Regions from separate parts of the Homo sapiens genome. Here all the other regions are linked to region 1. The links come from fine-mapping of genetic effects on gene expression. A gene starts in region 1. Each other region holds a variant in brackets. All regions are shown on one strand. Distances are from middle to middle. Region 1 holds the start of SDR42E1 (short chain dehydrogenase/reductase family 42E, member 1). Region 2 overlaps PLCG2 (phospholipase C gamma 2). Region 3 has its middle 42 kb from the start of SDR42E1. Region 4 overlaps SDR42E1 (short chain dehydrogenase/reductase family 42E, member 1).

Region 1 (5,152 bases):
GCCTGTGGGTACACAGAAGTCAAGAACTGAGGTTTGGAAACCTCTCCCTAGGTTTCAGAGGATGTATGGAAACTCCTGGATGTCCAGGCAGAAGTTGGCTGCAGGGGTGGGGCCCTCATGGAGAACCACTGCTAGAGCAGCATGGAAGGGAAATGTGGGGTTGGAACCACCCCACAGCGTCCCCACTGGGACACTGCCTAGTGGAGCTGTGAGAAGAGAGCTACCATCCTCCAGACCCCAGAATGGTAGATCCACCAACAGCTTGCACCGTACACCTAGAAAAGCAGCAGACACTAAACGCCAGCCCTGGAAGCAGCCAAAAGTGGGGCTGTACCCTGCAAAACCACAAGGGTGGAGCTGCCCAAGACTATGGGAAACCACCTCTTGCATCAGTATGACCTGGATATGGGACACGGAGTCAAAGGAGGTCATTTTGGAGTTTCAAGATGTGACTGCCCCGCTGGATTTTAGACTTGCATGGGGCCTGTAGCCCCTTCGTTGTGGCCAATTTCTCCTTTTTGGAATGAGTATACTTACCCAATACCTGTACCCCCATTGTATCTAGGAAGTAACTAACTTGCTTTTGATTTTACAGGCTTATAGGTGGAAGGGGCTTGCCTTGCCTCAGATGAGACTTTGGAGTGTGGACTTTTGAGTTAATGCTAAAATGAGTTAAGACTTTGTGGGACTGTTGGGAAGGCATGATTGGTTTTGAAATGTGAGGGCATGAGATTTGGGAGGGGCCAGGGGCGGAATGATATGGTTTGGCTGTGTCTCCACCCAAATCTCACCTTGAATTGTAGATCCCATAATTACCACGTGTCCTGGGAGGGACCCAGTGGGAGGTAACTGAATCACAGGGGTGGGTTTTTCCCATGCCGTTCTCTTGATAGTGAATAAGTCTCAAAAGATCTGATGGTTTTATAAAGGGGAGTTCCCCTACACAAGCTCTCTTGCCTGCCACCATATAAGACGTAAGATGTGACTTTGCTCCTCTTTTGCCTTCTGGCATGATTATGAGGCTTCCCCAGCCATGTGGAACTGTGAGTCCATCAAACCTCTTAACTTTATAAATTACCCAGTCTTGGGTATGTTTTTATTAGCAGCATGAGAATGGATTAATACAGGTAGTTTAAAGGTTTAGCATTTAAGCCTCAGGACAATCTTCCGAAGTTGTTACTAGTATTATCATCAGCTTTCAGAAATGAGGAAAATAGATCAGAGGTTAGGAACCTTGCCCACAAATTATGCAGGTCATAAGGGGTTGGGCAGGGTTCAGGACTTGAAGCCGGGTCTGTATGACTCTTAACCACTACATGTAATGCCGCACAATAAGGCTGGGACAATACAGATTCGCTTAGGTCATTATCTTATCACTGTGAAAGGAAAATAAATCTTGGGGTCCCAAGATCACTAAGCTAAAGGGAAAAGTCAAGCTGAGAACTGCTTAGGGCAAACCTGCCTCCCATTCTATTCATGTATCTCTGCTCACTAAAATAAAGGCATATCTGATTGCTTCCTTTGGAGAGGCTAATCAAACTCAAAATAATGCAACCATTTGTCTCTTACCTACCTATGACCTGGAAGCCCCCTCCCCGTTTCGAGTTGTCCCGCCTTTCCAGACCGAAAAACATGTTCATCTTACATCTGTTCTTGTCTCATGTCTCCCTAAAATGTAGAAAACGAAACTGGGCTCTGACCACATTAAGAATACATCGTCAGGACCGCCTGAGGCTGTGTCATGGGTACATGTCTTCAACCTTGGCAAAATAAACTTTCTAAATGAACTGAGACCCGTCTCAGATTTTCAGGGCTCACTCCACCTCCACAATTTCTGTCACATCTGATTCATCTGGTATTATGACTAGCCTATAAGGTTTTGTTTAAACCTACTTACCTTTTCCCAACAAATACATGCAGTTTAAATGGGAACCTGTCACTGCCACTTTTAAGTGGCAAACCAGAACCAAGTGATAAAGAGGAGGTAATCGTTCTCCCAAAGTGTGCAGAAAATCAAAGACAGGAATCAAGTATAGCCAGCCACCTGTGGAAAGTTCGGAGCTTGGGGCCCCGATGTCCTTAAAAACAAAAAATGCGGAGGGCCAGTGTTTGAGGCCTTGGCGACATTCTAGAAAGCCAAGCTGCGCCCGGTCCCCTGGGATCAGGAAGACATCTGAAAGGGGATACTCCTTCCCGCCACCCTGCTCAGTCATTCACCACCGTCCCCCACCCCCGGGACCGCCACCTGTCGCGTTCCAGGCCGAGGCGGTCCAGGGTCCCCGCGGAAGGGCGGCGGCCCCCCAACCCCAGCCCAGGCCCACTCACAGCTGCAGGAACAAGGGCGCGGCAGACGGCTACAGCAGGCAGAGAGGCCCAGGCCTCCTAGCTACCCATCACCACAGCTGGGGCGCCGAAGCCGTCGGACCTGCCTCCTGGAGCCACTTCCGGGCCTCTCTAGGAAGCCTGGAGGTCTCGGAGTCTCTATGACGCGCAGGTGTCTCCTTCACCTTCACCGGCGTTGAGGTAGCAGGAGGTTCGCTTCATGAATTCCCCCACGTTCTCTGGCTGTGCGTTCCGCCGTGGCGGGAACCCTTTTAGGGTCACGTCTTCCCCCACGTCCCCTGTCTGTGCGTTCCGCCGTGGTGGGAACCCTGTTAGGGCCACGTCAACTGCTCTTCCCACCTCCAGTGTCTGCTTTTAGACTTTCACCTCCATCTTTGTTTATCCCCAAGGCCAAGACCAGTGCCTGATAAATAGGCACTCAGGTCAGCATTGCTTGGGTGGATGGATGATGGAAAAGGCTCTATAGGGAGGCAGAATATTCACTCTCCATGTATCTCTTTAAGTTTCTATTATCTCTGAGTTTCCATATCTATGTGTGCCCATAGGTTTTCCTGTGTCCCTAATTTTCCTTATTTCTCTTTGTTCTGGTCGCCAAGCAGGCAGTGATGCCAAGACTAATCTTTGTTGCTGAAGGAACCAAGGAATGCAGAAAGGAAAGTTGGCATCCTCACTCAGAGGTCTCCTTTTGAGGCCCATCTTTTGTCTCCTCATCATGAGTGTGGTTCTGTGGATGGTTGCAGACTGTACACGTGTATGGACATGCATCCTGGAATGGACCCCTGGCTGGGGAGGATTTCATTTTAGTGTCTTGGAGGATGGAAGTTTTGACTTCATGTGGTGCTCTTGCCGATAGATCTGGTACCAAAGGCAGACTCAGAGAGGTTCATATCAATTGCCTGATTTACTGCTCAGTTTTCACTAAGCACACACAGTCACAAGGACAAAGCTCAAGTCCTAGGATATAAAAATTAATGAAGCCCAGGTGAAGAAATCAAGAAGTGCCAGTCCCTGGCACTGGCCTCTCTCATAGGATGCTCTGGCTTTCCTGCCTGTCTTGTCCTCACCTATTAGGCAGGCATAAGTCACAGGAGACTTCTTGTGCTAAGCAGTCTTAAAGAACAGCTTTGCAGTGGCTGCTTAGGATACATAAAAATTAGAAGAGAAGAGGAAGGGTATTCAGGGGGCTGAGAGACCAGCTATATGCTCTTGAGGCCAGCAGCTAAGGAAGAAAAGACCCACTGAGGATGCAGTAAAGAAGACAGACTTCCTTTGGGGAATTACAGGATCCTCTGAGGGATACCCAGATTTAGAGTGTGTGGATAAACATGAGAAATGGTGAATTTAAATGTTAGTATTCTTGTGCCACCGAGGACTCTTTTAAAATATAATCAGGCGTGTTTTAAAGGAAAATTACAAACTCTATAATTGCTTCCTTAGCTTCCATCATAATTTAGTGAGTTGATTTTATAAAGGTCTGACCAAGAGATCTAAGACAGAAATGACTGGAGAAAGAAATTAACTTCAATGTGAGTTTGTATATCAGTGTTTGTTTAGTATTGTCTTCCCCCAATAATATGTCCAGGCAGTGGATGCATCTCAGAAAGATCAGTTTGCTGTCACAATTACTCACAGGTGTGCAGTATTTTATTTCTCACTCCGATCACAGTCCAATTCAGTCTGCAGGGAAGGGGAAGAGTGCTGTGCTCCACATAATCACTCAGGGACCCAGGCTTCCCCCATTTGTTATGCCATCATGTTCAACTCTTGGCTGCCAAGGTCACTACAGAAGAGGAAGTAAGAGCTTGGCTTTCCCCAACACTTTCACTTAAAGTCTCCTGCATCCCCTTGAAATTCTTCAATCTCTTCACAGCACTTAGCTCATCTGAAATTATCTTGCATGTTGCTATAATGAAAGCTCCGTGAGTGCAGAGACCTGCTTGATTGATTGGTGTATCTCCACTACCTACTATAGTGTCTGGCATAGAGACAGAATTTTTTTTTTTTTTTTTTTTTTTTTTTTACTGGTGAATGAATCAGCAAATGAATATATGTCACATTTCTGGTTGTCCCTGTTCAAAATCCCAGGCTTGCAAACGACACCTTCTTTTGGCCCAGCTTGGATCAGAAATCACCTCTACCATTGTCAGCTGTGGCAAAAGGACACAAGAACTGCTATAAACTGTGGTCATTTCTAAAGAACGGAAATTATTGTGAGCTTGGTAGGCACATGAGAACTTTGCTATCCAAAAGTGTGGATCAGTAACATCAACATCACCTGAGAGCTTATTAGAAATGTTGGGTCTTGGATCCCATTCTAGGCTTAATAAATACAAATCTGTATTCAGCAAAATCCCTAGGTAATTCCTATGTATAGTAAAGGCTGATAAGCACTGCCCTAAAAGTGCTATGACTTAGTAGTAGTAGCACTACAACTCTCTGAGGTGGGTAAGAGAAACCTTGTAATAGTTCCACACTGCATCTGGAAATCAGGTGAGTTTAAGTGACTTACCCAAGGTCACAGAACTAGTAAATGACAGACCTGTGATTAAAAGCCAAGGCTTCTGGCCGGGTGCGGTGGCTCACGCCTGTAATCCCAGCACTTTGGGAGGCTGAGGCGGGCGGATCACGAGGTCGGGAGATCAAGACCATCCTGGCTAACACAGTGAAACCCTGTCTCTACTAAACATACAAAAAATTAGCTGGGTGAGGTGGTGGGCACCTGTAGTCCCAGCTACTTGGGAGGCTGAGGCAGGAGAATGGCGTGAACCCAGGAGATGGAGCTTGCAGTGAGCCGAGATCACGCCACTGC
Region 2 (5,152 bases), 91 kb before region 1:
CAAAATTCTTTTAATTTTTTTAAATCTAGGTTTCCCAACCCTACTTATTTAACAGACTGTCCTTTCCCCCTGGTGTGTTCTAGACATCTTTATTGAAGATCAGTTGACTGTAAATGCATGGATTTATTTCTTGGCTATCTATTCTGTTCCACTGGTCTGTGTGTCTGTTTTTATGCCACTGTTGTGCTATTTTTATTACTATAGCTTTGTAGTATATTTTGAAGTAAGATAGTGTGCTATCTGCAGCTTTGTTATTTTTGCTCAAAATTGCTTTGGCTATTTGGGGTAGACATTTTTAAAAAGACCCTCTTGGCTGTAAACTTAGGGTCAAAAATATTTTTCCAGATGTTTCTGTCTTGCTGATAAAAGCTAATAAAACCAAGGAGGCTCTTCTGTTTTGGATTTTTTCTGCTTCATGTTTCAAACAGATGAAGGAATGAAAGACTTGTTTCTTTTTTTTTTTAAAAAAAGTCACTGTTTTGCTAGTTGAGTCACCGAAGACAAGATTTAATAATTTTGAGGTGGGGGGGATTGGCAAACATTTTCTGTGAAGGACCACAGAGTGAATATTTTAGGTTTTGCAGGCCATATGGTCTCTGTTGCAGCTACACAACTCTGCTGTTACAGTGTGAAAACAGTCCCAGACAATGTATAAACAAATGAACTGTAGCTGTGTTTCAATAAAGCTTTATTTATAAAAGCAGGTGGTGGGACACATTTGGCCTACTCTTGACCTAGTTCCCTAGGAAGCTCCTAAAGTCAAGTCCTGTAGTTGGGGAGGAGAGGAAGGGTAAGAGGAGCTGTTGAGTCACTCGGCCATATTTCTTCTGAGACACAGATTCTTCTAGATCTGTTTTGAAAATACCCACATCATTGTTTTCTTATTGTCTTGTATTCCATAGGAGGACTATACCCTGTTTATTTACCCACTTCTCTAAGGCTGGATAACTAGGTTGTATCTAATCAGTAGGGTTTGTGTAAAAATTGTTTGGCCACCAGGATCTTGGCATGTCAACCCTGTGTTCTTCCTGCTCCAGGGCTAGGGGCAAGGTAAAGCATTGTCGCATCAACCGGGACGGCCGGCACTTTGTGCTGGGGACCTCCGCCTATTTTGAGAGTCTGGTGGAGCTCGTCAGTTACTACGAGAAGCATTCACTCTACCGAAAGATGAGACTGCGCTACCCCGTGACCCCCGAGCTCCTGGAGCGCTACAATATGGTAGGTGGTGGACTCCCTTGTGATTTGGTGGGATTTCTTGTCTGAGGTTGTAACTCATCTGTTCATGAATTCAGCAAACCTCTGAGTATTCACCATGTATCTGATACTGCTGTAGGTCCTGGGGATACAAATTGAGCACAACAAAGACCCTGCCGTTGTGCTGCTTATAGTGTAGTGTTGGGGAGATGCAACAAATGACATTTAAAATATCCATAGCATGTGCCAGATGGTGATGAGTGCTATGGAGAAAAACACTGGGCAGGTGGATAAGAGGATACAGAGTGATGGGGAAGGGGTTGAAGTTTTCAGAGGGTGGTCTAGGAAGATCTCACTGAAAAGGAATGAGCCATGTGGGTATGTTCTGGAGGAAGAGAGGATAGCATGCGCAAAGGTCCTGAGGTAGAAGCCTGCCTGGAGGCACCAAGAGGAAGTCAGCATGGCCGGAATCAAGCCAGCCCAGGTGGGGGTAGAGCTAAATAAGGATGAGGGTTCACAGGTGACTTATCATGCAGGGGCTCATAGGCCATTGTAAGGCCCTGGCTTTTTCTCTGAGTCATTGGAGAGTTCTGGGTGCAGGAGAGACCTGATGTGGTTACTTTGTCTCCATTCCTACCACATAGATCATTAATTTATTGAAGAGAGATTTATGGCATCCCGATCATGTGCCAAGGACTGTTCTAGATACTAGGAGTACTGTGGAACAAAATCTGCTTTGGGAAATTTAGGTTCTGGAGAGGAGAGACAGATAATATACACAATTAAGATGTTTTCAGGTAGCATGAAATATAATAAAGCAAAGAAAACAGGATAGTGTGAAAAGGGGTGGACACTACCTTAGGCTGTGGGAGTGGAGATCAGAGAAGGCCACCTTAAAAGGGGAGAAATGTGAGCCGAAACATGGAAGATAGCAGTGAATGGGATCTGGGGAGAAGTGAATGAAGGGGTGACTCTAGGTACAGGAGTGGCCACATCACAAGCCCTAAGGTGACATGAGGAACAGAAAGAAGAGTTAGAGAGGAACAGAGAGGTGGTGGGGGTGGATCTTGTCAGTGGTGTGCTAGTAAATGTTCAAACAGCTCTCAGCGGGGTAGGGGGAAGGCACTGGTTTGTAGCATTTGCCAGTTTCCATGGTGTAAATACTTCCATGGAGGTCAGTTTCAAGTTGTTGATGTGCTGTCGTTGAACCTGGAACGTGGAGTCAGGAAGTGATGTACACAGTGGGCTTTTGTGAGCCGGGAGGTCACTCCAGCACACCATCGCATCTTAGGATTTGTGCTTTTACAAAGGAACGCAGTGCCTGGCACGCAGCAGGCCAGGACAGGGCCTCTCTGATTTTGGGTTAGTTTCCAAGTCTGGGGACCTTCTTTATAGCTTCTTCCTGTGTCTACTCATGGGCCAAAAGAAAATTCTATGAGGTTTCAACTCCTCTATCAAAGGATAGGTAACCATAAGGAAGCCTAGAACCCTTGTTATATGTAAGGGCTATTCCAGGAGCATGGATTATTCCATTTCTTTCTTTCTTTTTTTTTCCAGGAAAGAGATATAAACTCCCTCTACGACGTCAGCAGAATGTATGTGGATCCCAGTGAAATCAATCCGTCCATGGTACGGTGCCGAACCTCCAATTCACATGATTTTGGAGTCACGAGGCTGATGTGGATTCCATCTTGTTCCCATGGCAGTTATAACAGGGCAAGGGAAGACTTTGGAAAACCTGGCCAAAATAATTTTTTTTTTTTTTTGAGAAGAAAGGATGATTGATAATATCAAGCCTAGTTTCAGGGAAAATGTTAATAGAATTCCATCCAAATGCAACAGTGTTTTGCTAAAATTCTGAGGTTTGACGAACCACCTTTGGGCCAAATGGCTTCTAATGAAAAGTCTTTCAAATGTTTTTGGCTCGCTGACAGAGCCTGTGGTGTTTATAAATTCCATTTGGTTCACTGACCTCCTTGCAGTGCAAATGCTA[T/A]CTCATATTCCCACCCTGACTCTGTTGTGTAATTTCATGCAGGTAGGGATGGATTTTACTTTCAGCCCTCGGCTCCTCCTTGCCATGCTTTCATCTCAAATTTAGTTTGAGCCGGCAGAGGAAGAACCACAGCGAATTTTCTGTTTGGGGGCCATGTGGCACACAATTAGTGTACAACGCTCACTTAGGAAGGGGCCCTGCTTGTGGGCTCTGTTGAAATCCAGAGATGACTTTCTTTTTCAAAAATTTATAATCCATGGCCAATGCAGATCTGTTTCAGAAAGAAATGAAATCTTGAAAAGTTGTGGGCAAATTGAGCTGTGTGTGAAATGCATTAAGAGACCTTAGTAGCAAAAACTTTTGTTAGTAGTGAAGGATGTTTTGGCGATGAGAACAGTCACCTCTCTAACTGATGACTTTTCCTTCCTGTGGCCTTGGAGACTGGCTGGTCCTTATATCCACCCTTGAAGCAGGATACGCAAGTAGAGGCTGCTCTGTTTGCAGGTGGGGGAGAGAAAGGCAAGGGTACTGCTTAGCCTCTGGCCTCCAGCTGCAGATCCCTGTGGCAGAGCTCCTAGAACCCACATTGCTTCTTATGAAACATCATGCACTATGGCACTAACTCACATTGATGGATCCAGTTCTGGGCTGAGCCACTTAAAACAGCTGGTCGATGTGGGGCAAATTACTTTCTCTCTCTGCATCTCAGTTTTCTCATCTGCAAAATGGGCATACTCATATAACTACTTACCTGTTATGGTTGCTTAAGGATTAAAGGAGATACCTTAAGGCTTGGAATAATGCTTTAGCGATACTATAGTTAGCACTTAAGAAGTGCAAGCTGTTGTCAGTTTTATCATTATACACATGATCTCATTTAGTAGTCTTAACAACCCTGTGAAATATATAAAAATTTAATTCCCATTTCACAGACGGGGGAACTGAGGATCAGAGAGACTCAAACTTATATCATTATTCAAGGGCAGAGCAATGATTTGAACCTACATATCTGACTCTGTAGCCTGTGTTCTGAGGAAAAATTTTACTAGGTTCCCTGTGAAATTCCTGTTCCCATTTCCTTTGGGTGGGAGGAGAAGGAAGCTGCTCATTTAAACAGGTTTGACAACGTCAGAGCTTTTCCCACTAACATTTGCTTGCCGTGTGGGTGTTCATTTATGCCCGCCAGGCAGAAAGCATGAAAGCAAATTCATTGAAGAAAATTTCTAACCAAGGAAGTTCTATCTTATTTAGTTCTGTGAACAGAGACCACCTTTTGATGAATTTCATGGAGGAGAAGCTCAGTTACTCTTGCAAAATGTCAGGGTCCTGCAGGAGTGTAGATAGGGGACTGCTGACCTACAAAAACAGAGCAATGAGGCCCTCAGGACAGGCAGGAAGAATGGGGTTGCCCTTGAGCTTCTGGGAGGCTTGCTGAGCACCGGCACTGTGATGACAGTCTTGGCTTAATCTAAAAGGCATGTCCTTTCTTTGTTGAGGAAATTGAGCAATATTGTGTCACTACAATATAGGGTCACTCCCACCCTAACCCTAAGCCTAACCCTAACCCCAGCGCTAAACCCTAGCCCCAAACCCTAACTCCTAACCCCTAACCCTTAACCCCAACCCAGGTACCCTTGGCTCTGACTAGGCCAGTTCTCCTTCACTCCCTGGTGGCTTTTTGGGGCCTTCGATCCTTTGCAATGCCAGTCCCTCTCCAGCAGATGACTTTGTAACCTTGGCCTGAAGCCTCCTGCTCCCCAATGAGAAGAACCAAATGGTACCTGGGAACGCAGCCGCCTCCCTCCCCTCCTGTCCCTGGCCTGACCTTTTCCTTCTTGTTTTCCCTGAAAGCCTCAGAGAACCGTGAAAGCTCTGTATGACTACAAAGCCAAGCGAAGCGATGAGCTGAGCTTCTGCCGTGGTGCCCTCATCCACAATGTCTCCAAGGAGCCCGGGGGCTGGTAA
Region 3 (5,152 bases), 42 kb before region 1:
TGCTTCAGATGCTTTACATAAGTAGAACTACGCAGTATTTGTCTTTCTATGATTGGCGTATTTTACTTAGTATAATGTCCTTCAAGATGCAAGTTGTAGCATCTGACAGGATTTCCTTCTGTTTTCTGACTGAATAATATTCCATCGTATGCCTATACCCCATGTTCTTTGTCCATTCATCTGTCCATGTACACTTTAAGTTGTTTCTACCTCTTGACTATCGTGAATGATGCTACGATGAACTGGAGAGTGCAAATCTCTCCTTCAGTTCCTGATTTTGATTATTTTAGCTAAATATGCAGAAGTGGGATTGCTAGAACGTATAGTACCTCTGTTTTAATTTTTGAGGAACCTCCACACTGCTTTGCATAATGCCTGCATCATTTTACACTTCTACCACCAACAGTGCAGAAGGTTTCCTATTTCTCCACATCTTCGTCAACACTTGTTATATACATATTTTTCTAATAATGTCCATCCTAAAAGGGTGTGAGGTGATATTTCACTGTGGCTTTTACATTTTCTTTTTTTTTTAAATTAAATTAAATTTTATTTTATTGAGACAGAGTCTCACTCTGTCGCTCAGGCTGAAGTGCAGGGCTGAGATCTTGGCTCACTGCAACCTCTGCCTCCTAGGTTCAAGAGATTCTCCTGACTCAGCCTCCCAAGCAGCTGGGATTACAGGTGCACACCACCATACCCGGCTCATTTTTTTGTATTTTTAGTAGACATGGAGTTTCACCATGTCTGTCAGGCTGGTCTCAAACTACTGACCTCAAGTGATCTGCCTGCCTTGGCTTCCCAAAGTGCTGGGATTACAGGCGTAAGCCACCACGCCTGGGCAATTTGCATTTTCTTGAAGATTAGTGATGTTGAACATCTTTTCATATACCTGTTGACCATTTGTATGTCTTCTTTGGAAAAATGTCTATTTAAGTCATTTGCCCATTTAAAAAATTGTGGGTTTTTGCTATTGAGTTATAGGAATTCCTTGTTTTTGATATTAACTCCTTATCAGATGTACAGTTTTCAAATATTTTCTCTCAATCCAGAGGTTGCCTTTTTACTCTCCTGAATATTTCCTTTGCTGTGTGCAGAAGCTTTTTAGTTTGATACAGTTCTACTTACCTTTGTTTTGTTGCCCAAGCTTTTGAGGTCATATCCAAGAAATCACTGCTAAGACCCATGTCATGAAGCTTTTCTTCTGTTTTCTTCTAGCAGTTTTATGGCTTTAAGTCTTATATTTAAGTCTTTAATCAATTCTAAATTGATTTTCACATATAAGTTAAGAGACCAATTTCATTCTTTTGCATGCGGATTTTCAGTTTTCCCAACACCATTTTTTGAAGAGACTATTCTTTCCCCACTGTGTATTCTTGGAAGCTTTGTCAAAGATCGGTTGATCTTAGGTGCATAGGGTTATTTCTGGGCTCTCTATTCTGTTCCATTGATCTATATGTCTGTCTTTTGCCAGTACCATAATATTTTATTACTGTAGTTTTGAAGTGTGTTTTGAAATTAGGAAGTATGAGACCTCAACCTTTGTTCTCTTTCAAGATTGTTTTGGCTATTTGGGATCATTTGTGGTTCTATATGAATTTTAGGATTGTGTTTTCTATTTCTGTAAAAAATGCCATTAGGATTTTGGTAGGAATGACATTGAATCTGTAGATCACTTTGGGTAATATGGACATTTTAACAATATTAAGTTTTCCAGTTCATGAACATAGGATGTCTTTCCATTATTTGTGTTTTAAATTTCTTTCAGCAATATTTTATAGTTTTCAGTGTACAAGTCTTTCATTTCCTTGGTTAAGTTTATTGCTAAGTGTTTTCTTTTTGACGCTGTTATAAATGCGATTGCTGTAATTTCCTTTCCAGATTGCTTGTAGTTGGTGTACAGAAACATAACTAATTTTAGTATGCTGACTTTGAATCCTGTAACTTTACTGAATTTATTAGTTCTAACAGTTTTTTTCCCCTTTGGTGGAATCTATAGGATTTTCTACACCTAAAATCATGTTATCTGTGAACAAAGATAATTTTTCTTCCTCCTTTCCAGTTTGCGTGCCTTTTATTTCTTTTTCTTGTCTACTTGCTCTGGCTAGAACCTTCACTAGTATGCTGAATAGAAGTGGTGAGAGTGAGCATCCTCACCTCTTTCCTGATCTTAGACGAAAAGTTTGTTTTTTACCTTTGAATATGTTAACTGTCGTGTTTTCATATATGGGCCTTTATTATGTTGAGGTAATTTCCTTGTTATTCCTAGTGATATGATTTGGATAGTCATCCCTTCCAGATCTCATATTGAAATGTGATTCCCAGTGTTGGAGGTAGGGACTAGTGGGAGATGTTTGGGTCATGGGGGCAGATCCCTCATGAATGGCTTGGTGCCCTCCCTACAGTAATGAGTGAGTTCTCACTCTTAGTTCATTTAAGAGCTGGTTGTTGAGAAGAGCCTGGCATTTCTCTTGTTACCTCCCTTGCCATATGACACACTGGCTGCCCTTCTCTTCCACCATGACTAAAAGCTTCATGAGGCCTTACCAGAAGCATATGCTGGCACCATGCTTCACAGTCCACAGAACTGAAAGCCAAAATAAATTATCCAATCTCAAGTATTTCTTTATAGCAACACAAAATGGACTAATACACCTAGTTTCCTAAGTTTTTTTAATCACAAAAGGGTGTTGAATTTTGCCAAACGCAATTTGTTTCTATTGATATGATCATGTAATTTTTATCCTCTGTTCTGTTCCTGTGGTGTATCACATTTTTGATTTGCATATTTGTAATCATTCTTATGTCCTAGGGATACTCTCCAGTCTCTTATAAGTGACTAAATCCCACTTAGTCATCATGGTGTATGTCCTTTTAATGTGCTATTGAATGTGGTTTGCTTGTATTTTGTTAAGAATTTTGCATCTATATCTGGGATATTGGTCTGCATTATTTTTTTCTTGTAATGTCTGTTTTTGGCTTTGGCACTGGGGTAA[T/C]GCTGGCCTCATAAAATGACTTCGGAAGTATTCGTTCCTCTTCTACTTTTTAAAAGTTCAGAAGCATTCGTCTTAATTGTTCTTTAAATGTTTAATAGAATTCATCAGCAAAATCTTCTGGTCCTGGGCCTTTTTTGAGATGTTTTTGATTACTGATTGAATCTCCTTACTAGCTAAAAGTCTGTTCAGATGTTCTATTTCTTTATGATTCAGTCTTAATTTTCTATTCTCTACTTTGATAACTTCTACCTTAATCTTTATTATTTCATTTCTTCTGCCATCTTTGGGCTTAGTCTGTTTGTTTCTCATTCCTTGAGGTATAGAAGTTAGGTTATTTGAGCTCTTCTTTTGGGAGGTAGGAATTTATCACCACAAATTTTCCTCTTCCTACTGCTTTTTTCTCCATGAGTTATGTTTTTGTTTTGTCTAAAGATATTTTATAATTTACCTTTTTATATCTTCTTTGACCCATTGGTTGTTCCAGAGTAGGTGTTATTTAATTTCCATATATTTATGAGTTTTCTGATTTTCCTTCTCCTACTGATTTTTAGTTTCATTTCACTGTAGTTGGAAATAAATTTGAGAATTCAATCTTCTTAAGTTTGTTAAGACTTGCTTTGTGATCTGTCCTGGAGAATATTTCTGTGTGCACTTGAGAAAATGTGTATTCTGCTACTGTTGGGTGGAATGTTCTGTATATGACTATTAGGTGCATTTGATTTATAGTATTTTTCAAGCCCTCTGTTTCCTTATTGATCCTGTGTCTAGATGTTCTATTCATTACTGAAATCTCCTACTATTATTGCGATGCTGTTTTTCCCTTCAGTTCTGCCGATGTTTGTTTCATATATTTAAGTGCTCTGATGTTTGGTACATACATATTTACAATTATTATATCTTCTTGGTGAACTGACCCATTAATCATTATCTGTCCTTCTTTGTCTCTTGTAGCAGCTTTTGACTTAAAGTCTATTTTGTTTAAGTATGGTCACCCCTCTTTTAGTAGCTTAGCGTATCTTTCTCCATCCTATCACTTTAAGTATATGTGTGTCATTAAACTTAAAGTCAGTCTCTTATATACAGCATCTAGTTGAATCTTGTTATCCTTCAGCTACTTTGTGTCTTTTGACTGGGCAGTTTAATACATTTACATTTAATTATTGATAGGAAAGGACTAACTATTGCCATTTTGTTAATAATTTTCTGTCTGTCTTGCAGCTCTTTTGTCCCTTTTCTTCTTTCACTGTCTTCCTTTGTTGATTTTTTGTAATTTTTGTAGCTAACATAGGGCTTACATGAAACATTTTATAGTTGTAACAATCTGTTTTAAGCTGATAACAACTGTAATCACATTGAAAAACTCTACAGTTTTACTCTTTCCTCCAAACTTTGTCAATTATGTCATAAATTTTATCTTTTTATATTGTGTATCCCTTACATATTTTCATAGTTTTTAAATACTTTTGGCTTTTAACATCTGTACCAGAATTAAAAGTGATGTATACACTAACAATATAGTATTCTGTGTTTAGCTATATACTTACCTTTACCAGCAAACTTTATACTTTCATATGCTTTTGTATGGCTGCTTAGAGTCTGTTTAAACTTCAAGAACTTTAGTATTTGTTGTTATTCAGGCCTAGCGGTGATGAACTTCTTCAAATTTTATCTGAAAAAGTCTTTATTTCTCCTTTGCTTTTAAAGGACAGTTTGCCAGATACAGTATTCTTGAACAACCTTTTCTCCCCCTCCTTTCAGCACTCCCAATATACTGTCCCATTCTTTTCTGGCCTGCAAGGTTTCTGCTGAGAAATTCACTGATTCTTATGGGAGTTCCCTTGTATGTAATTAGTCCCTTTTGTTGCTCTCAAAATTCTGACTTTTGACAACTGATGTCTCAATATGGACTTCTTTGAGTTTATTCCCTTTGGGTCCATTTTCTTTCAGAGATTTGACAAGTTTTTGGACATTATTTATTTAAAGAAGCTTTCTGTCTCTTTATCTCTTCTACTTTTGGAACTAACATAATGAGTATTTTGGTCTGCTTATGGTGTCCTATAAGTCTGTGAGGCTTTTTTCTCTTCCTCTTCCTTCCTTCTGTTCTTCCTTCCTTCTCCTTCCCTCATCTTCCTCTTCCTCTCCTTCCCCCTCCTCTT
Region 4 (5,152 bases), 23 kb before region 1:
ATCATCAGTAACTCATTAGAATAATTCTAATAAAAAGATATTCACAATAGTAGAAATAATAACCTTAAATTACCTAGAATAAACTTAACAAAAGATATCCAAGACCTTAACATAGAAAACGCAGAATCTTGGCTAGGCATGGTTGCTCACACCTGTAATCCCAGCACTTTGGGAGGCCGAGGTGGGCAGATCACTGGAGGTCAGGAGTATGAGACCAGCCTGGCCAAAATGGCTAAATGCTGTCTCTACTAAAAATACAAAAATTAGCTGGTCATGGTGGTGTATGCCTGTAGTCCCAGCTACTCGGGAGGCTGAGGCCGGAGAATCGCTTGAACCCAGGAGGTGGAGGTTGCAGTGAGCCGACATTGCCCCACCACACTCCAGCCTGGGCGACAGAGTGATACTCCGATACTCTGTCTCAGAAAAAAAAATCATTTGCAGAAGATTCATAAATGGAGATTCATAAATGGACACAAAACTAAATGGAGACGTATACCATGTTTATGAAGGCAACGCCTCAAAACTGTACATGTCAATTCTCTCCAAATTTAACTGTAATATTAAAGCAAACCCAGTTGAAAAAATACCCTCAAGATTTTCATAGAACTATAAAACCTGATTCTAAAAGGGATATGGAAAATGTATATATAAACAGCCTGCAATTATGAAATGAAATTGAGTGGGGATATGTCTTAGCAAATATAAAAGACCTAATAAATCCTTAATAGCTGAAGTTGTGTTATCTTCACAGTAAAAGATAAACTTGAGGAGAAGGAGAGGGAATAGGGAGAATTTGAATTCAGTAGAAAGATAATTATTAATAAATTATGTTGAGACAATTGACTGTTCACTTAGAAAATACCAGGTTAGATCTTCACCTCATGCACAAAACTAAATACCAGATAAAGGTAAACAGGTAAAAAATAAAACTTTAAAGCTATTAAAAGAAAACATACAATATCTATTTCTTCAGAATGGGAAAGACCTTCATAAACAAATATAACCCCCCATGATTAATTTAGCAACAAAATTAAAACTACTATAATTAAAAAGACAATTGAAACTAAGTTAAAAGGCAACTGTTGGGGAGAGAGAAACTATCCATGATTTACATGATAGAAGATGTTACGTCTTTTACATCCTACAAATCCATGCAAAGATGATGAGCAACCCAATAGAGAAGTAGGGGAAAATATGACTATGAAATTCACATAAGAGGAAACTCAAGGTCTAACAGATACCTGGCAAGATGCTCTCGAGTAGTAATTACAAAGGGTAGGTTTTAAAAAATGAGATATTAAAAAACTCATGAGATTGGCAAATATGGAAATGTAAGGTAGTTCTGGAAATGGTATGGAGGCACTAGGAACTCTGGTGGGAGGGTAAATTTGTACAGCCACTTTGGAAGCGGATGAACAGTATGGCTGACTCAAGCCCCACCTATAATCCCATCTTCCTCCCTCATTTCCAGTAGAAGAAATTGGAGTCGGCTTTCAGGAAGGCTTTTTAAAAGAAATAGACCCAGCTGGCATTTCCCTTTGGCCTTGTTTATCTTCCCTTTTCTTCTTGCCTGTAATAATGCCTGAGGGTGCAGCCACCTTCTCAGAATCACGCGGTGAGAATCATTAGAATGAGGATCCAACAGAGCCGAAAGATGGGGCCAGTCCCTGATGTTACCACTGAGCTGCGTCATCCCACGTATGCCTACTTCCGGACCCCTTGTTACATGAAAACAACAAACTACTGTTCAAGGCACTGTTAATAATTTTTAAATGCGCAGCTGAATGCATGTCTGATACAGTAGTCCCTATTAAAATTCTAATTCCACTTCTGGATGTCTATCCTAGCAGCTCATTTCAACGTGGATGTAAGGAGATATATATATATAAGAGCATCCATGCCTGTGCTGTCTGATAAGGTGGCAAGCTAGAAACAAACGGAATAAACACCAATAAGGAAATGCCTTAATCTACCATGGTACATTTACACTATGGAATGCTGTTCAGCTGTTAAGAACTAGGTATATCTACCTTATCTGATGGCCATAAATAAGACATATTCTATGCCATCGTTGTTTGAGAAAGTAGCAATCATCTAGTGTTCTTACAAAGGCAAGCTCTAGGCCAGGCGCCACCCAGCTCACATACTGAGCCTCCTTCCTTGGCGCCAGTTGTGCCCTGAATGTGTGTCCAGGGTGGGGAATGGAAAGGCAGTCCAGGCGTTAGATCTACCAACTCAGATTTCACCTTTGCTGGTAGATGAGTCATGCCTATGCCTGGGAGACTGGCAGGGAAGTTGGGGAGGTACATGAAGCATAATCAGAGGTAGGTGGACAGCAGAAGTTAGGAAAGTTCTGATGTGGCACACAGGACTCTATCAACAGCTGGGGAACGACAGGTTTCTTGGGCAGCCTGGGGTAGGGGTGGGAGCTGGCAGTGCCACCTGTTCCTAACCTCTGTTCTTAATAGGGCTGGCCGAGGCAAAGCCATGTTATTTGTTTACTAGGTTTGAGGCAGTAAAATTACTGAAGTAATAACCACAACATTGTGAAGGACAATTGAAGGAGGTTGTTTGAGGCTGTTATCGACTCTATCACTAACACAATGACGGCTAAGTATAAGGAGAATTACCTATACTCAGGCATTTTAGATGGCTTTTTAGGTTTGGAGAAAATGAAAAGCAAAACATATATGATGCATTTCACAAATGCTTTTGGACTGATGTTGCTATACTTACTGGAAAATCAAGTTCCATTTGAATTCACCGAAATGTTTTCCTTTTTGCTTCTTGAATACTGTAGTGTTCTGTGATATAGTTAAATTTGCTGCCTTCGCAAGGTTGATACTGGAATTCTTTCTAGTGTATTATGCTGCATAATTTGTACCAATATTGACTAAATATTTATTCTTTTACATGTTCAATGGCTACTTGCAGAGGAATTTATTCAAATTTATTATAGTTTGCTACTGATATTAGCTTTATTTTGCATGTGCTGTAGAGGAATTCGTTCAGATATATTTTATTTTGTGTCTTTCCTAGTTACCAGTGTTCGGTGAACCACCGAACCAGTGTTTGCTTTCATACGACCGCGTGTCAGATCATCTACTCTTCCACCAGTAAATCTATTTTGCTGAGGGATACACAAAAGAAGCACTGAAAAACTATACATAAGATTTTCTTTAGGTAATTTTTT[A/G]TTAATATTTCAATGTTGGTAGAATACTGCTACATACCCAGAATTCAGGATTTTCTACTATATTCTATTCTAGTACAAAATGAGATTTTTTCCCCTCAAAATCAGTTCACAATAACTTCTAATACATCTGTTATGAAAAATGCTTAATTCTTCATATAACTATGTGTCTTATATATAGGGTGATCGTACAATTTATTATACAAAATGGGACATACCTGAGAGTGAAAGGAAGCACTATTAAAAATTAAGGTGGGACTACAGGCATGAAACCAGAACTGTCTTAGGCCAACTAGGACATATGCTTATCATCTTTATATACCCGGTGACCTCCTATGTCAGCAAATAAAGAATATATACTAATATCAATAGATCACCATGCTGTACTATTGAGTGAGAAACCGTAGTAGCAGAAGGAACTGTGAGGTGGGAGACAGTAGTATGGGGAAAGACATGAACACCACAGCCCTGTTTTCTATACAAATATATACATATATGAAATTTGGGGACATTAGTAAAAGGGGTCTTTGGCCTTATCCGTAATATTTTAACATTATATAAGAAAAATACATCTATGCATTATTTGTATAGTTACTTTTAAATCTAAGTTACACAGAAGCACTCTGAATGTGTAGAAATAAAAGCTTGATGATTTTGGGTTGGCTTTCTAGCCCCACAATTTAAAACCAACACACACCGCTATGGGTGTTTATAGACATCAAAATTTAGAGCAGAGAGGCATAGATGCCTACTTGTTCTCTAGCATGGTGTAATTGACTCTGCAATCTCAAGAAAAGAAAAACTCATTTTCAGTTTAGAGCTCAAAACGTGACTGAATTGAGTAATTGAAAACCATGGTATCAAGCCTGTAATCCCAGCACTTTGGGAGGCCGAGGTGGGTGGATCACCTGAGCTCAGGAGTTCGATACCATCACGGCTGACATGGTGAAACCCCATCTCTACTAAAAATACAAAAATTAGCTGAGCGTGGTGGCGGGCACCTGTAATCCCACCTACTTGGGAGGCTGAGGCAGGAGAATTACTCGAACCTGGGAGGCGGAGGTTGCAGTGAGCCAAGATTGTGCCACTGCACTCCAGCCTGGGCCACAAGACCAAAACTCCGTCTGAAACAGACAAACAAACAAAAAAAACATGGTAGGCTGGGCACGGTGGCTCATTCCTGTAATCTCACCACTTTGGGAGACTGAGGAAGGAGGATCACCTAAGGCCAGGAGTTTGAGACCAGCCTGGGCAAAACGGTGAGACCCTGTCTCTACAAAAGACGACAGAAAAATTAGCTAGGTGTGCTGGTGCACCTGTGGTTCTAGCTACTTAGGAGGATCACCTGAGCCCAGGAGGGCACTGCAGCAGTGAGCTGTGTCCACAGTGCTACACTTCAGCCTGGTCGACAGAGTGACACCATGTCTCAAAAGAAAAAAAGAAAAGCCACGGTAAATAAACTAATACCTGTTATATGGCAGGAAATCAATGAAACATTTTCACTGAACCATCTCTACCCGCATATGCAGTTGTTTTTTTCAAACTACAGTCTTATGTTGCTAATTAGTTACTGAACATTCCATTTGAACGTCTCAAACTCCACTAGCATGTCTTGCATCTCTTCCTGTAGACACCAGCTTCCCCTCCAAACCCTTCCATCTTTCCCAGCAGAAACACTATTAATTAAGGATCCATGTGCATAGTTCTTGTACAGGTTACAAAAGGCCTCTGTGCCATTAAATCCATACAAGTTCCCCCAAGAGATAAGCAGGGAATGTTTTATCTCCACTTTACAGATGAGAGGCATTTGCTCAAAGTCACATTGCAAATAAGAGATGGCTCCAGGACAGGCATAAGGAAGTGCAAGCAAATGCATGAGTCCCTTGAGCACTGAAGGGCTATAATCACCCACTACCAAATATTTCTTTTCCACTTGGGCCCAAACTTAAGGTATTTGCTGTG

The links. PIP is the estimated chance that this variant, and not a neighbour inherited with it, causes the effect. A credible set is the group of variants that fine-mapping cannot tell apart.
Region 2: its variant is the best candidate, but not a certain one, in a credible set for the expression of SDR42E1 in esophagus mucosa (GTEx, PIP 0.81).
Region 3: its variant is the best candidate, but not a certain one, in a credible set for the expression of SDR42E1 in pancreas (GTEx, PIP 0.85).
Region 4: its variant is the best candidate, but not a certain one, in a credible set for the expression of SDR42E1 in whole blood (TOPMed, PIP 0.50).

The regions. Positions count from the first base shown.
Region 1 is chr16:82,009,062-82,014,213 of GRCh38, forward strand. SDR42E1 (short chain dehydrogenase/reductase family 42E, member 1) reads right to left here and starts at 2,409. Exons shown (of 3, transcript NM_145168.3): 1 at 2,326-2,409. RefSeq lists a silencer at 2,184-2,333 and enhancers at 2,574-2,663, 2,674-2,753.
Region 2 is chr16:81,918,447-81,923,598 of GRCh38, forward strand. It overlaps PLCG2 (phospholipase C gamma 2), which reads left to right. Exons shown (of 33, transcript NM_002661.5): 20 at 1,038-1,218; 21 at 2,752-2,823; 22 at 5,039-5,148. Among named protein-coding and RNA genes, the nearest start is that of SDR42E1, 90 kb to the right of the region's middle. The variant T/A (reference allele first, on the strand shown) is at 3,188.
Region 3 is chr16:81,967,220-81,972,371 of GRCh38, forward strand. No RefSeq gene overlaps it. Among named protein-coding and RNA genes, the nearest start is that of SDR42E1, 42 kb to the right of the region's middle. The variant T/C (reference allele first, on the strand shown) is at 2,997.
Region 4 is chr16:81,985,682-81,990,833 of GRCh38, forward strand. SDR42E1 (short chain dehydrogenase/reductase family 42E, member 1) reads right to left here. Exons shown (of 3, transcript NM_145168.3): 3 at 3,174-5,152. Among named protein-coding and RNA genes, the nearest start is that of SDR42E1, 23 kb to the right of the region's middle. The variant A/G (reference allele first, on the strand shown) is at 3,194.